Linked DNA regions of Homo sapiens: region 1 is linked to region 2. Evidence: fine-mapped expression QTL. A gene starts in region 2. The other region holds a variant in brackets. All regions are shown on one strand. Distances are between the middles of the regions.

Region 1 (8,838 bases), 46 kb before region 2:
AAGAAAGAAAAAGAAAGAAAGAGAAGGAAAGGAAAGGGGAAAGGAAAAAGGAAAGGAAAGGTAAGGAAGGCCACTGAGTTTTGAGGACCAATGCAGTCTGGTGCCAGGTGGAAAACTGCTGATGAAGGGGCAAGGGCACGAACAGGGAGTTCAGGCAAGTCTTTTGCAGTAAACCAGATGGGTGATGATGGCAGCTTGCCCCAAGCTGGTGGCCACGAAGGTGGTGACAAGTAGGCCCAATTCTGATATAGAGTGCAGGTGGAGTTGACAGGCTGGACAAAAAAATGGAAAATCTGGGCTCAAGTTTTTTTTAAAAAACAAAAGACTTTCTAAAGCTTGCCAGTGGGTTTTTTCTTTCCCACAATTTCACTGTACTTAATCTCTCTATCAATTAGTTCACACTTAGATGCAGAACAGTGAGTTTTGATGAGCCCAAAAAGCTTTCAATTTGCCTAAATTGTTTTCGTTAGCATAACTGCTTTTGTGCTAATTATTGGTGATTGAGTTTTAAGACCCAGCAAACGCAGGCATAGGCTGGCAAATTCTATGCAGGCTCACTTGTGCACTAAGTCTTGCACATTAAAAAAAGGAGTGCAGAGAGCTTTGGCTCCCAAAGAGAGAAGGGCTCTCTCTTCCTAGCCTCAAGTTCCTGAAACTATCATTAAGTTCAGACACTAGAAGAGTCAGGACAAGAAGCCAGCTTACTTTATTTCTGGCCCAGAGCTCACAGCACCCCTCTGCTCTTTGGCACCACTACCCTCATCCAGCAAGAATAAGGTTCCCTAAAATTCCCCGGGAAAACAGAAATCCTACTGCTCACTTCCCCACTCTCACATCTACTTCTCTAACTGTCTCACTGGATACAATGTCCTACACATTCATATTCTCAGAGGAAACCCCTTTTGAGAGAGCAATGGGTCCAGCCTTTCACACAGCTAGAAAGTTCACAAGGTGCAACAGTGGTAGTGGTGCTTCTCCTAAGAGACTTAATATACTGATGCCCAGGCTCCACCCTCAACTCATTAAATTGGTTTAAGGAGGAGCCCAGACATGAGTTTTTTTTTAAAGCTCAAGTTACTTTAATGTGCAGCCAGGGTTGAGAACCACTGCCCCAACATCTTTTACTGAGGCAACAAATTTTCAAAGGTGTGTCCTTCAACACGAAAGGAAGATAGCCCATCCAGCAAGAGGGGGGCATGTTGCCAGCAAAAGTGAAGGGGCTCTTAGCCAAGAGGGCGAAGCTGCAGGCTGCGCCTCTCAGGCAACCCCTGGTGATACTCCCAAATCACATCCCAATTTCTAGAGGAGACAGTCCTCCAGATATCCACACAGCCTTAACTAAATTACTGCTTAGAGGCAGCTCAATAACCAAGAATTATTGAACAGGCAACAACAGGCGAACATTGAGGCACAGCAAAATTAGTCATCCACTTACTTACTGAATCTTCAACTAAATTTCACTTTGGTGTTGGCCAAATGCCACAAACACCTGCCTTAAACATTGTCAGACTATCAGCAAAGATGCCGGTGCAAGCAATGCTCTCAAAGCCTCTCCATCCTAGCCCAGCCCAAGAGATACAGATAATAGTTTTCCTTTGGGAAAGAAGGTTCATTTCAGGGCAACTATAACCAGAGATAATTTGGATTTATCTCTAGGGCATCCAGCCCTCTCAAGGAATAGACTCCACTGACTAAGACAGTTGCTGCCATTACCCTGCAATTACACTGGTTAAGGGAGTAGTAAATAAAGGTCTAGAATGAATCTACTTCATGTGACTTCTAATGAAAAAAACGATTTTGCAAGTTCTTATCACAAAGAACTTGAGACGTCTGACATCTTTAGTACCAGCTCATGAAAACAGTAAGATTATTTCCATGTTCTTTAGACTTGGTGATGAATTCCTTTTCTGGAACACCATCTATATCCACCATTTTGCTATTATGAGCTGTTGGGCAATATTAAGGTGGTGGACTCCTGCAGAAGCCAGGCAGATAGCCTCTCTGAAGTAACTCCACATTGCATTTGACTGAATGCCTGAATTCCAACCTAAGTATTAAAAATCTAATTCCTGTGTTCTTACATAACAGTCCATGGAAATTAGTTAGAATCTGACCTTCCTGGAGGAGCCAAGATGGCCGAATAGGAACAGCTCCGGTCTACAGCTCCCAGCGTGAGCGACGCAGAAGACGGTGATTTCTGCATTTCCATCTGAGGTACCGGGTTCATCTCACTAGGGAGCGCCAGACAGTGGGCGCAGGTCAGTGGGTGCACGCACCGTGCGCGAGCCGAAGCAGGGCGAGGCATTGCCTCACTTGGGAAGCGCAAGGGGTCAGGGAGTTCCCTTTCCGAGTCAAAGAAAGGGGTGACGGACGGCACCTGGAAAATCGGGTCACTCCCACCCGAATACTGCGCTTTTCCGACGGGCTTAAAAAACGGCGCACCAGGAGACTATATCCCGCACCTGGCTCGGAGGGTCCTACGCCCACGGAATCTCGCTGATTGCTAGCACAGCAGTCTGAGATCAAACTGCAAGGCGGCAGCGAGGCTGGGGGAGGGGCGCCCGCCATTGCCCAGGCTTGATTAGGTAAACAAAGCAGCTGGGAAGCTCGAACTGGGTGGAGCCCACCACAGGTCAAGGAGGCCTGCCTGCCTCTGTAGGCTCCACCTCTGGGGGCAGGGCACAAACAAAAAGACAGCAGTAACCTCTGCAGACTTAAATGTCCCTGTCTGACAGCTTTGAAGAGAGCAGTGGTTCTCCCAGCACGCAGCTGGAGATCTGAGAACGGGCAGACTGCCTCCTCAAGTGGGTCCCTGACCCCTGACCCCCGAGCAGTCTAACTGGGAGGCACCCCCCAGCAGGGGCACACTGACACCTCACACGGCAGGGTATTCCAACAGACCTGCAGCTGAGGGTCCTGTCTGTTAGAAGGAAAACTAATAAACAGAAAGGACATCCACACCAAAAACCCATCTGTACATCACCATCATCAAAGACCAAAAGTAGATAAAACCACAAAGATGGGGAAAAAACAGAACAGAAAAACTGGAAACCCTAAAATGCAGAGTGCCTCTCCTCCTCCAAAGGAACGCAGTTCCTCACCAGCAACTGAACAAAGCTGGATGGAGAATGACTTTGACGAGCTGAGAGAAGAAGGCTTCAGATGATCAAATTACTCTGAGCTACGGGAGGACATTCAAACCAAAGGCAAAGAAGTTGAAAACTTTGAAAACAATTTAGAAGAATGTATAACTAGAATAACCAATACAGAGAAGTGCTTAAAGGAGCTGATGGAGCTGAAAACCAAGGCTCGAGAACTACGTGAAGAATGCAGAAGCCTCAGGAGCCAATGCGATCAACTGGAAGAAAGGGTATCAGCGATGGAAGATGAAATGAATGAAATGAAGCGAGAAGGGAAGTTTAGAGAAAAAAGAATAAAAAGAAACGAGCAAAGCCTCCAAGAAATATGGGACTATGTGAAAAGACCAAATCTATGTCTGATTGGTGTACCTGAAAGTGATGGGGAGAATGGAACCAAGTTGGAAAACACTCTGCAGGATATTATCCAGGAGAACTTCCCCAATCTAGCAAGGCAGGCCAACGTTCAGATTCAGGAAATACAGAGAACGCCACAAAGATACTCCTCGAGAAGAGCAACTCCAAGACGCATAATTGTCAGATTCACCAAAGTTGAAATGAAGGAAAAAATGTTAAGGGCAGCCAGAGAGAAAGGTTGGGTTACCCTCAAAGGGAAGCCCATCAGACTAACAGCAGATCTCTCGGCAGAAACCCTACAAGCCAGAAGAGAGTGGGGGCCAATATTCAACATTCTTAAAGAAAAGAATTTTCAACCCAGAATTTCATATCCAGCCAAACTAAGCTTCATAAGCGAAGGAGAAATAAAATACTTTACAGACAAGCAAATGCTGAGAGATTTTGTCACCACCAGGCCTGCCCTAAAAGAGCTCCTGAAGGAAGCGCTAAACATGGAAAGGAACAACCGGTACCAGCCGCTGCAAAATCATGCCAAAATGTAAAGACCATCGAGACTAGGAAGAAACTGCATCAACTAATGAGCAAAATCACCAGCTAACATCATAATGACAGGATCAAATTCACACATAACAATATTAACTTTAAATGTAAATGGACTAAATGCTCCAATTAAAAGACACAGACTGGCAAATTGGATAAAGACTCAAGACCCATCAGTGTGCTGTATTCAGGAAACCCATCTCACGTGCAGAGACACACATAGGCTCAAAATAAAAGGATGGAGGAAGATCTACCAAGCAAATGGAAAACAAAAAAAGGCAGGGGTTGCAATCCTAGTCTCTGATAAAACAGACTTTAAACCAACAAAGATCAAAAGAGACAAAGAAGGCCATTACATAATGGTAAAGGGATCAATTCAACAAGAAGAGCTAACTATCGTAAATATATATGCACCCAATACAGGAGCACCCAGATTCATAAAGCAAGTCCTGAGTGACCTACAAAGAGACTTAGACTCCCACACATTAATAATGGGAGACTTTAACACCCCACTGTCAACATTAGACAGATCAATGAGACAGAAAGTCAACAAGGATACCCAGGAATTGAACTCAGCTCTGCACCAAGCAGACCTAATAGACATCTACAGAACTCTCCACCCCAAATCAACAGAATATACATTTTTTTCAGCACCACACCACACCTATTCCAAAATTGACCACATACTTGGAAGTAAAGCTCTCCTCAGCAAATGTAAAAGAACAGAAATTATAACAAACTATCTCTCAGACCACAGTGCAATCAAACTAGAACTCAGGATTAAGAATCTCACTCAAAACCGCTCAACTGCATGGAAACTGAACAACCTGTTCCTGAATGACTACTGGGTACATAACGAAATGAAGGCAGAAATAAAGATGTTCTTTGAAACCAATGAGAACAAAGACACAACATACCAGAATCTCTGGGACGCATTCAAAGCAGTGTGTAGAGGGAAATTTATAGCACTAAATGTCCACAAGAGAAAGCAGGAAAGATCCAAAATTGACACCCTAACATCACAATTAAAAGAACTAGAAAAGCAAGAGCAAACACATTCAAAAGCTAGCAGAAGGCAAGAAATAACTAAGATCAGAGCAGAACTGAAGGAAATAGAGACACAAAAAACCCTTCAAAAAATTAATGAATCCAGGAGCTGGTTTTTTGAAAGGATCAACAAAACTGATAGACCGCTAGCAAGACTAATAAAGAAAAAAAGAGAAGAATCTAATAGACGCAATAAAAAATGATAAAGGGGATATCACCACCGATCCCACAGAAATACAAACTACGATCAGAGAATAGTACAAACACCTCTACGCAAATAAACTAGAAAATCTAGAAGAAATGGATAAATTCCTCGACACATACACTCTCCCA[C/A]GACTAAACCAGGAAGAAGTTGAATCTCTGAATAGACCAATAACAGGATCTGAAATTGTGGCAATAATCAATAGCTTACCAACCAAAAAGAGTCCAGGACCAGATGGATTCACAGCTGAATTCTACCAGAGGTACAAGGAGGAACTGGTACCATTCCTTCTGAAACTATTCCAATCAATAGAAAAAGAGGGAATCGTCCCTAACTCATTTTATGAGGCCAACATCATTCTGATACCAAAGCCAGGCAGAGACACAACAAAAAAAGAGGATTTTAGACCAATATCCTTGATGAACATTGATGCAAAAATCCTCAATAAAATACTGGCAGACCGAATCCAGCAGCACATCAAAAAGCTTATCCACCATGATCAAGTGGGCTTCATCCCTGGGATGCAAGGCTGGTTCAATATACGCAAATCAATAAATGTAATCCAGCATATAAACAGAGCCAAAGACAAAAACCACATGATTATCTCAATAGATGCAGAAAAAGCCTTTGACAAAATTCAACAACCCTTCATGCTAAAAACTCTCAATAAATTAGGTATTGATAGGACGTATTTCAAAATAATAAGAGCTATCTATGACAAACCCACAGCCAATATCATACTGAATGGGCAAAAACTGGAAGCATTCCCTTTGAAAACTGGCACAAGACAGGGATGCCCTCTCTCACCACTCCTATTCAACATAGTGTTGGAAGTTCTGGCCAGGGCAATTAGGCAGGAGAAGGAAATACAGGGTATTCAATTAGGAAAAGAGGAAGTCAAATTGTCCCTGTTTGCAGACGACATGATTGTATATCTAGAAAACCCCGTTGTCTCAGCCCAAAATCTCCTTAAGCTGATAAGCAACTTCAGCAAAGTCTCAGGATACAAAATCAATGTATAAAAATCACAAGCATTCTTATACACCAAACAACAGACAAACAGAGAGCCAAATCATGAGTGAACTCCCATTCACAATTGCTTCAAAGAGAATAAAATACCTAGGAATCCAACTTACAAGGGATGTGAAGGACCTCTTCAAGGAGAACTACAAACCACTGCTCAAGGAAATAAAAGAGGATACAAACAAATGGAAGAACATTCCATGCTCATGGGTAGGAAGAATCAATATCGTGAAAATGGCCATACTGCCCAAGGTAATTTACAGATTCAATGCCATCCCCATCAAGCTACCAATGACTTTCTTCACAGAATTGGAAAAAACTACTTTAAAGTTCATATGGAACCAAAAAAGAGCCCGCATCGCCAAGGCAATCCTAAGCCAAAAGAACAAAGCTGGAGGCATCACGCTACCTGACTTCAAACTATACTACAAGGCTACAGTAACCAAAACAGCATGGTACTGGTACCAAAACAGAGATATAGATCAATGGAACAGAACAGAGCCCTCAGAAATAACGCCGCATATCTACAACTATCTGATCTTTGACAAACCTGAGAAAAACAAGCAATGGGGAAAGGATTCCCTATTTAATAAATGGTGCTGGGAAAACTGGCTAGCCATATGTAGAAAGCTGAAACTGGATCCCTTCCTTACACCTTATACAAAAATCAATTCAAGATGGATTAAAGACTTAAACGTTAGACCTAAAACCATAAAAACCCTAGAAGAAAACCTAGGCATTACCATTCAGGACATAGGCATGGGCAAGGACTTCATGTCTAAAACACCAAAAGCAATGGCAACAAAAGACAAAATTGACAAATGGGATCTAATTAAATTAAAGAGCTTCTGCATAGCAAAAGAAACTACCATCAGAGTGAACAGGCAACCTACAACATGGGAGAAAATTTTCGCAACCTACTCATCTGACAAAGGGCTAATATCCAGAATCTACAATGAACTCAAACAAATTTACAAGAAAAAAACAAACAACCCCATCAAAAAGTGGGCGAAGGACATGAACAGACACTTCTCAAAAGAAGACATTTATGCAGCCAAAAAACACATGAAAAAATGCTCATCATCACTGGCCATCAGAGAAATGCAAATCAAAACCACAATGAGATACCATCTCACACCAGTTAGAATGGCAATCATGAAAAAGTCAGGAAACAACAGGTGCTGGAGAGGATGTGGAGAAATAGGAACACTTTTACACTGTTGGTGGGACTGTAAACTAGTTCAACCATTGTGGAAGTCAGTGTGGCGATTCCTCAGGGATCTAGAACTGGAAATACCATTTGACCCAGCCATCCCATTACTGGGTATATACCCAAAGGACTATAAATCATGCTGCTATAAAGACACATGCACATGTATGTTTATTGCGGCATTATTCACAATAGCAAAGACTTGGAACCAACCCAAATGTCCAACAATGATAGACTGGATTAAGAAAATGTGGCACATATACACCATGGAATACTATGCAGCCATAAAAAATGATGAGTTCATGTCCTTTGTAGGGACATGGATGAAATTGGAAAACATCATTCTCAGTAAACTATTGCAAGAACAAAAAACCAAACACCGCATATTCTCACTCATAGGTGGGAATTGAACAATGAGAACAGATGGACACAGGAAGGGGAATATCACACTGGAGACTGTTGTGGGGTGGGGGGAGGGGGGAGGTATAGCATTGGGAGATATACCTAATGCTAGATGACGAGTTAGTGGGTGCAGTGCACCAGCATGGCACACGTATACGTATGTAACTAACCTGCACAATGTGCACATGTACCCTAAAACTTAAAGTATAATTAAAAAAAAAAAAGAAAATTTTCAGGAAAAAAGCATGAGAGTTATTATAAAGGTGTTAATTTCCTCATATACATAATAAATGAATACCGTGATTCTATATATTTTCCCTGATGGCTAATCTAAAAAGATTAAATTCTTAAATAATAGTTAAAAGCAGAAAAATAGAAAATATCTAATTGTATGTTTTTGTATTAGATGCTGATCATACTTTAATTCTATAATTCAAAATAGTATCAACCCATTTCTAAAATGACACTCTGTAAAATAATTTAAAGTGTTAATTATATGAGAAAATTACACATACATGTCTTCTTTAAACTTTTTTAAGTGGCTTTGTTTTCATTAGACTGTATTATTTGTAATCAGTATAGTTTAGTAAAGTTATTTTGAAAATAAAGATAATTTTTGTTATCCTTTGTTTTTCTCACGTTTAATGTCAGTCTTCCAAAGAAAAATAAAATTTGGCACTAAGCACAAGAAAAAAAAAAAAAAGAATCTGACCTTCCCCCATCATTTTTGGGAGAAGTAATAAACAGGAGTAACTTCTCCAAGATACAATGCTATTTATCTCACTCTTGTTAAGCCCACAGTCCGGTACGTACAGGTATATAAATAATTTAAAAGGCCTCAAAGAGCATTAAGCCAGAAAGACCCATGCTTTAAATACACATTGGGCTTGAACAGAAGAGGTGTGTGCGTATGCATACGC
Region 2 (8,838 bases):
GAATGATGCAATTCAGGCCAAGCGTGGTGGCTCACGCCTGTAATACCAGCACTTTGAAAGGCCCTCCTCACCATCTGAGATCAGGAGTTTCAGACCATCCTGGCCAACATGGTGATACACCATCGCTACTGAAAATACAAAAATTAGCCGGCCGTGGTGGTGGGCACCTGTAATCCCAGCCACTTGGGAGGCTGAGGCAGGAGAATCACTTGAACCCGGAAGGCGGAGGTTGCACTGAGCTAAGATCATGCTACTACACTCCAGCCTGGGTGACAAAGTGAGACTCCGTCTCAAAATGAAAAAAAAAAAAAAAAAAAAAAAGAATGATGCAATTCAAATGTTTATTATGTGAGTGATCATTATGAATCAAGGTCTCTGCCCTCTTCATTTAATAATCTAGAAGAACACACGGGCAAGTTAACAAATAACTGCTCACATGGTGAATTTTTTCCTTTGGGTATAGAGGGGTGAAAAAGGAGGAGACAAAAGCATTGATTAAAAAGTAGGAAAGAGCAAGATTTGTACTGAGAACACAGAAGAACCAATAAATTGACCACCTTCTTAAATCTCTCTCCTCTCGCTTACAAAAAAAAATAAAAACATTATTCAGTTTTCCTCCCACTTCTCTGACCATTCTTCTCAGTCACTGCTGGCTCATCTTCCTTTGCCTTTCTCTTTACAGTTGGAATTTTTTCCTTGCTAATATTTCTGAATTATTTTATTAACTTCCAACAACTTATACTAATTCCATATTTATAGTAATATGGTGGAATAGGTCATCTGAGTAAACAAACAAAATATTACCTATATAGGATGAAAAACTTTCAGCTGAGTAATTAAAGTTGTTAAATTGATATAGCCCTTGGGCACCCAACAGAGTTTCTAATTTCAGTGATCCATTTCCATACAATATGTGCTTCATTTTCACACTGTGTGATTGTTTTTGGTAGTCTCTTGTTCTTTGCTCATGTTTTTGAGTACTTCTTTTATTTTAAAAATTATCTTAAGCATTTTAAAAATATGTGATTATTCTAATACTTTTGGAGGATCTAATTCTATTATCATTTCCCCTAAGTCTCACTCAAGGTGGCTTGTTTCCTCATGGGTTTTTAAATTTTGAGTTTGGCACTTACTATTTTGGTAACCTTAATCTGTGAAAAATCCTAAAAGACCAATGTGGAAAGTCTGCTTCTTTTGTAATATGACGTTCTGGGTAAAGTATATGAAGAAAGACATATGTAGGTGGAAAAGGAAAAATAATTTTAAAAGCCGTTTCGGATAATTGTGGATATTCTTTGATACTACCTCAAAACTCTGACAAGTGGTAGCTTCTTCAAGGTTATTTCTAACTCAGAAACTATAGCAATGAATTTTTTGTACTGTCAGAATAAATCTATTAATGTATCTTAAGCTTTGAATGGCTCTTTCACCAATACCTGATTTCATAACATCATGCATTGGTCACCTGGAAAACACTGGTTCACTGAGTTACGCAGATTATCCAAATACTATCAAAAAAAAATCCACGTTTGTTAATATCACCACTCATCTCATCACAGATATCTTTAAGGACTGTGAAGCTGCCAAGCTCACAGCAAAAGATACGAGTCTTCCCAAATTCTAAAATTTCCCCAAAGTTTGAATTTTATTATTGGCCACAAATACTAACCGTTGTTTTCTTAAAGTGACAAACTCACTTCATTCATTTTCCAGATTAACAAATTTCTATGAAACATGTGCTACTAACAAGACCAGTCATTAAGTAAAAATCCCACTCCGGAAAGGTTTTCAATTGCACTTCACAATGGAGTTATCCAAAATGGATAGGGGTGACAGTGTGTCTCATTTCCCCATATACAAAAAATGGGTAAAATTAGATCATCTTTAAATTATTTTTCAGCTGACATAGGACTCAGTAATTCACACAATTAACTAACTGATATATGTGTGTTCTTGGAAAATTAGAAAAAAATATCCAAACTAACTTAAATCAACTAACTCGTATATTCGGAAAATATCTTAAAGTACAAAACAATAATCAAGACAACATAAACAATACACAAGACAGTAGTTAGTAGCATCGGAAAGCTGCCGCGATCAAAGTTTACTTTAGTTAACTAGATCCTGTCTTAACTACCGATGGATGATTTTCACTGCAGTTCCAGGCTAACGTGGCAGAGGGAGGGGTTTGGGTGTGGTGGTTTTTTTTTTTCTCCAAATTAGTTGTATGCTTCCTTCTAAAGGGAAGGATATTTTTTAAAATGGCAAGTTAAGAAAAGACAAAGGAACCACACCTAATTTTATTTGTGGAGTGGAAGGTGGGTGGAGGGAGACAGAATATGCAATCGGTGTTCTGACACCAATCATGAAGAAAAAAGTTAAGCCCGTGGTGATATTTCAAAATGAAAGGCTATTTATTAAAATCGGTCAGGCTCAAACCAGCGAAGAGGACAGATGGCAAAGTGGCTGAATTTGCGGCAGCTATGCCCCAATGAATTATTTCCGAGATAGGGTTCCACCCTCTGTAGCTAAGGCAAATTATTGCATCAGGCGCCCATGCAGGAGAAACCCGTTTGGTGTTTACTACTAAGTCATGATCTCCGGGGTCCTACTGCAAGCTCTGGCTCTCCCTAATTGCATATGGGAATCATCTGAAATAATCTTTTCCTTGATATCTCTAAATTCTAAACTCTATGGCAGTGCCCTAGGAAAAGGAGGTCTATATTAAATCACCAAGTCCTTCAGCCCATGAAACCTTCCCTCACCTTCGGGAAAATCAAATGTCAAAATATTCCATACTAAGGATGGCTGACTTCACTCCGCAACACTTAGTTTCCCAGGTTTACGATCTGAGGGCTCACTGGTTCCAAACGGCCTTTTCAGAAGCCAGAAAAGATGACAAGAGCAAAGGATGATGAGTTCACAGCATTAATAGAAAAGTTCGACACCTCCCCACATCCACATTTCAATTCTATTTTCTCAGCCAATCATTCCGCTAAACTAAGCACTGAATGAAGGAAGATGTTAAGGGGGAAACACTATCAAAGCATCCTAAAGATTAAAGGGCCTGGCCGTAAGACGAAAGAACCGGCAGTTTTTCGGCTCATCATTGACCACTGAAAGAATTAGGAGGCTTTCCACCCAGGGTGCACAAAGAGTACAGCAGAGCCTGGAAAACTGAAGTTAAGGTTATTCAGTTAGGAGGCGAGGACAACCAAAGGGTCACAGATCCCAGCCCCACTGGAAATAGAGGAGACGCGGGCTGTGACAGAATGGGGAAGGGAGAACGGAGCCGGAGAGGGACGCAGGAAGTCGGAGGGGTTCCAGGGAGTCATCCAAAAAGAGAGGAGGACGGAGGTCCGCGGGAGAGGAGGTGGCTGACGCACGGGGGACTTGGGACCAAAGTGGGGGAGGCGAAGAAGACGCCAGAGGATGAAGGGAAAGAAAGGGGTAACCGAAGAGGAGGACAGTTCCCCGGGGAGGAGGGAAGGATGACCAGAAGAAGGCCCTGGGAGGAGAGCCGGAGGCTTAGCGGAGAGCGCAAAACACCGGTACCTGCTGGCGCACTGCTAGCCTCAGAGGTGCCAGCACCTCCTCAGCCCCCGCGCCGTCCATGCTGCTCCGGGAGGCGGCGGCGGGCAAGGAGATCGGGGGGCAGGAGGCCGCGCTGAGGGACCGGCGGAGCAGGAGCGAGGGTCGGGCTAAGAGCCGGGGCGGCAGCAGCAGCAGCAGAGCGGCGCGAGCACCTCTAAGCAGCACTGGACGCGGAGAGGGCATGAGCCTGCGGCCCTGGGCTGTCCAGAGAGGGTGGCGACGGAAGCGGCGCGCGCCGCCCGGCTCGGAGCATGATGAAATCGCCGCGTAAACGACGCGGCGCGCGTGCTGCCGCACATTCACCACCGCGTGACGCGGCGCCGGGTCGCCGCCGCAGATTCGACACAAAACCCGGAAGGACCCCGCCGAAGGTTTTCTCCGGTTCGGGAGAGAGGTAGGTAGGGTTGCGAGCGAACAGATTTGCACAGAAGTGCGTCAAGCCACCCCAGCAGGGTGGATGTTCAGGGACACAGCTCTGAGCGAGACCTGCAGGCCGAGACACACGAGAACCTTCAAAGCATAGGTTTTTATACGAGTGACACCCCGGCCGACCTACTTGAACGGACACTTCTGTTTCTGTTCTTTCGCGCCCTGCGCCTTAAAAGGGTCGCAAAACATCAAATCAGATAGGGATCTTAGACTTCTGTTGCTCAAGTGCAGATGTTCCCCAGATAAGGAAATAGGCCCAGAGAGGTTAATGATTTGCCCAGAGTCACACATTCTTGGTCCGCCGATGTCAAGACAAAAGCTGGCGAACGGGGGAGGAGGAGTGAGGGGATAGAGTCACCCCAGGCTTTCTGGAGAAGGTAAATTCCAATCTGCCCTTGCGGGGCGAGCAGGATTTGAACCGGCAGAGATGAGGAAAGGCAAGAGGTGCCTGATAAGTCTTTCTGCTTGGCATAGCCTCAGTCTATCTGCCTCCTGTGGTTAGGCCCCAGCTGACCAACCACCCAGAGATGGCTTCCCCCCGCCCCACACACCCAGTTCCTCCTGCCCAAAGGGTGGAGGGCCTAGAAAAGCTGGGTTCCCCCTCCAGGAAAGGAAGAGAAAAATGATGTGTTGGTTATAAAAACAGCATTGCGCACACCTGCAAAAATGGCTAAAATGAAAATGATGGAAAATGCCAAGTGACCCTCTGAGACTCCCCTACACTGCTCAGGGGAGTGTTAACTGGTGCAGCCAGCCACTTGGGAGCTCTTCGGCAGTATGCACGTACGTCTCCCTGTGACCCACAATCCCACCCCAGGAGTGTGCAGGAGTAGACGGGCTCAGTATAATGAAGTCTCCTTTCCTAATGGTGTGAAAGTCCATGTTATTTCTCTTCCCGTTCCAGTGTGCAGTTCTGGAGAAGTACTTACAATTCAACATGAGCAGGGTGGGTTGCTTAAGAACCTTCTGCAATATTGAACAATTATATTTTTAAACACTTTTATTTCAAGATTTGATATTAATTATAATTTATTTGGCTTTTATTTTACTAGGCAATTTTGAATTTATTTTAATATCTTTAAATGTGAAAAATCATTTTAAGTTTTACTTTTATTTTTATTTAGATTTTTATTAAAATGTTGAAATTCTATATCCTTTGAATAAAACTATTTTATTTCTAAAAAATTCCTTAGATCAATAATGTCTCATCCATTTTCATGTTAGGACAGTCCTGAAAGGACTCCAAATCCGTTCTTCCCTCCTCCCCGACCAATTCATCCTCCCCACTGCTGCTTCAGTCATTCTTTCTTTCTTTTTTCTTTTTCTTTTTTTTTCCAGACGGAGTCTCGCTCTTTCACCCAGGCTGGAGTGCAGTGGCGTGATCTTGGCTCACTGCAACCTCCGCCTCCCGGGTTCAGGCGATTCTCCTGCCTCAGCCTCCTGAGTAGCTGGGATTACAGGCGTGCGCCACCACACCCAGCTAATTTTTTTATTTTTAGTAGAGACGAGGTTTCACCATGTTGGTCATGCTGGTCTCGAACTCCTGACCTCGTGATCCGCCCGCCTCAGCCTTCCAAAGTGCTGGGATTACAGGTGTGAGCCACTGCACTCGGCCCAGTCATTATTTCTGAAAGGCAAATCTGACTGTGTCCCTTCTCTTCTCAGGACACTTCAGTAGGCTCTTCATGGCCCTTGGAAGAATTTCCCAAACAGTTTTCTTTTGAAAACTGTGTCTGCACAATAATGATAATAGTTTATGTTTGTTGAGCACTCACTATGTACCAGTTAGTTCTAATTTATCTCATGGAATTTATTCACCAATTTAGTGAGATAGGTTCTATAGTTATTCAGAATTTTCACATGTGGGATTCAAGGGACTGAGATATCAAACAGCTTGTCCATGGTCACACAACTAAGTGAGTGTTGGGCCAGAATGTGAGCTGGGGGCAGAGGCAGATTTTCTACATAGCTAATGAAGCTTCAAGTGAGTTTAGCCCCTTTCTCTGTTGGGCTCTTTAAGTGCCCTGCAAGAGGCCCTAGTATTGTGTATGTATGATCATATATTTTTCTTGCTTTATTAAAGTTCATTTCTTTGAGGGAAATAAATTTTGCATACATTAAAATGAACAAAAATGTATAGTTCAATGGGTTTCGACAAAGCAATATCCTTTTGTAACCCCAACACCAAGCAAGATAAAGAACATTTTCCCCTGACTCCACAAAGTTCCCTTGCATGTCATCCCGGTCATCCCACCCTCCACAACCAGGCGATCACTATTCTCATTTATTTTCCTCTTAGATCTAGACTGTTGTATAAATGAAATAATGTAATATGTACTCTGTGTCTGATGTCTTTAATTGACCATAATGTGTGAGAGATTAATCCATATTGTTTCACATATCAGAAACTTGCCCTTTTTTGCTCTGAAGTATCCCATTGTGTGAATATACTATAATTTATTAATTTATTCACTAGTTGATAGACATTTGGGTTGTTTCATATTGTAGACCATTATGAATAATGCTGCTGTGAACATTCTCATACATCTTTTTTTGTAGCTATATGTTTTCATTTCTCTTGGGTAAATATCTAGGTGCGGAATTACTGAGTCAAACAATAGATGCATATTTAATTTTATTAGATTGTCACAAGTTTTTCCAATGTGGTCGTATTATTTTATGTTCTTAAGAGCAATATATAAGAGTTCTAGTTGCTCCACATCCTTGTTAACATTTGATGTTGCCGGCCTTCCAGATTTTAGCTATTCTAATAGTTGTATCTCATTGTGACTTGTATGCATTTTCCTGGTGATTAATAGAGTTGATTGTGTTTTCATGTGCTTAGTGGTCATTTGTACCTCTTCTTTTGTGAAACATCCACATTTTTTGTCTTTGCTTTTTAATATTGAATTATAGGAGATTTAGATATGCTGGATACAGTCCTTTGCTAGGTACATGTTTCATAAATATTTTCTTCCAGTCTGTGGCTTGCCTGTTTGTTAATGATGGTTTTGATAAGCAGAAATTTTTAATTTTGATGAAGTCTAATTTATCAATTTGTTTTTTTTCTGGGTTCTAAAAAATCTTTGCCTACTCTCAGATATTCACCCATATTTTTGTCCAAAATTTTAGTAGTTTTATGTTTAGGTCTATGATGCATCTTGAATTAACTTTTGTGTATAGTTTTAGGTAAGAGTCAAAGTTCATTCTTCCCATATAGATATCCAGTTGCTACAGCATCATTTGTTGGAAAAAAGTAGGGCTTACAAAAAATTACTGCCATTGATCAGCTCTAGTGCCTTTGTCAAAAATAAGTTCACCATATAAGGTGGACCTATATCTGGGGTCTCTATTCTGTTCTAATGATCCATTTATCTATCAATCTTTATGCTAGTATCACACTTCCTTGATGACTATTGCTTGAGGATAATTCCTGAAGTCAAATAATGTATATTGTCTACCCTTTCTTCTTTTTCAAAATTGTTTTTCTATTCCAGGTTCTTTCTATTTCTATATAAATTTTAGAATTGACTTATCAACTTTGTAAAAATACCTGCTGGAATTGTGAACCTGTAGTTTAATTTGGGGAGAATTCATAGTTTAAAGCACTGAATGCATTTTGATAAATATATTCCTAAGTATTTTATTCTTTGAGTCTTGTGAATGTTATTTTATTTTCCATTGATTTGCTGTTAATGTAGAGAAATATAATTGATTTTGTATAGTGACATTGAGACTTTCACTTATTAGTGCTATTATTTGTTTTGTAGGGGCGGGGGTTGTAGATTCCTTAGGATTTTCTTTTTTTTTTGAGACGGAGTCTCGCTCTGTCGCCCAGGCCGGACTGCGGACTGCAGTGGCGCAATCTCGGCTCACTGCAAGCTCCGCTTCCCGGGTTCACGCCATTCTCCTGCCTCAGCCTCCCGAGTAGCTGGGACTACAGGCGCCCGCCACCGCGCCCGGCTAATTTTTTGTATTTTTAGTAGAGACGGGGTTTCACCTTGTTAGCCAGGATGGTCTCGATCTCCTGACCTCATGATCCACCCGCCTCGGCCTCCCAAAGTGCTGGGATTACAGGCGTGAGCCACCGCGCCCGGCCGATTCCTTAGGATTTTCTGTATTAATATGCATATACTTTGTAAATAGAATCAGTTTTACTTCTTTCTTTCCAATATTTATGCCTTTTTCTTTTACTTGTGTGGTTGCGTAGTCTAGGTCATCTTGCACAATATTGAATAGAAGCAGTGAATGAACATCTTGCCTTGTTCCTGATATTAGAGGGAAAAGTGTTCAATGTTTCTCCATTTAGTGTAATGCTAACAAATTCAACTTGGTTTTGTCTTTCTTATATTCTGCTGGATTTTATTTACTAACATCTTGATAAAGATTTTTGCCTGTATGTTCATGAAAAATGAACATACAGGCAATCAGTGTATTGTTTTCTTTTCTTGTATCTTTGCCAGGTTTTGGCCTGGCTTTATAAAATCAGAGTTTCTTTCTTCTCTATTTTCTGAAATTTCAATATTTGTAAGATTGTTATCATTTCTTCCATAACCATTTGATAGAATTCACCAGTGAATTCTGGAGTTTTCTTTGTGGAAAAGTTTTTTTGCAGTTGCAGAGCCATCCATGCTTTCTATTTCATCTTTTGCCACTTTTGGTAAGTTTTGTTTTTCAGGGAATCTGGCCATTTCATATAAGTTATCAGATTTATTGTTTTAAAGTTGTTCATAATATTCCAGTAGTATTATTTGAATATATGTATAAGATCTGGAATGAAATCTCCTCTTTCATTCCTGATACCAGTAATTAGTT

Evidence for each region. PIP is the estimated chance that this variant, and not a neighbour inherited with it, causes the effect.
Region 1: its variant is fine-mapped to the expression of GARS1 in whole blood (TOPMed, PIP 0.93).

The regions. Positions count from the first base shown.
Region 1 is chr7:30,636,113-30,644,950 of GRCh38, reverse strand. LOC124901609 (a long non-coding RNA gene) reads right to left here and starts at 2,635. Exons shown (of 2, transcript XR_007060276.1): 1 at 2,115-2,635. RefSeq lists an enhancer at 2,449-3,144. The variant C/A (reference allele first, on the strand shown) is at 5,415.
Region 2 is chr7:30,589,861-30,598,698 of GRCh38, reverse strand. GARS1 (glycyl-tRNA synthetase 1) reads right to left here and starts at 3,821. Exons shown (of 17, transcript NM_002047.4): 1 at 3,556-3,821. The coding sequence starts at 3,777. RefSeq lists a silencer at 2,530-2,629 and enhancers at 2,525-3,138, 3,139-3,752, 3,773-4,122, 3,753-4,366.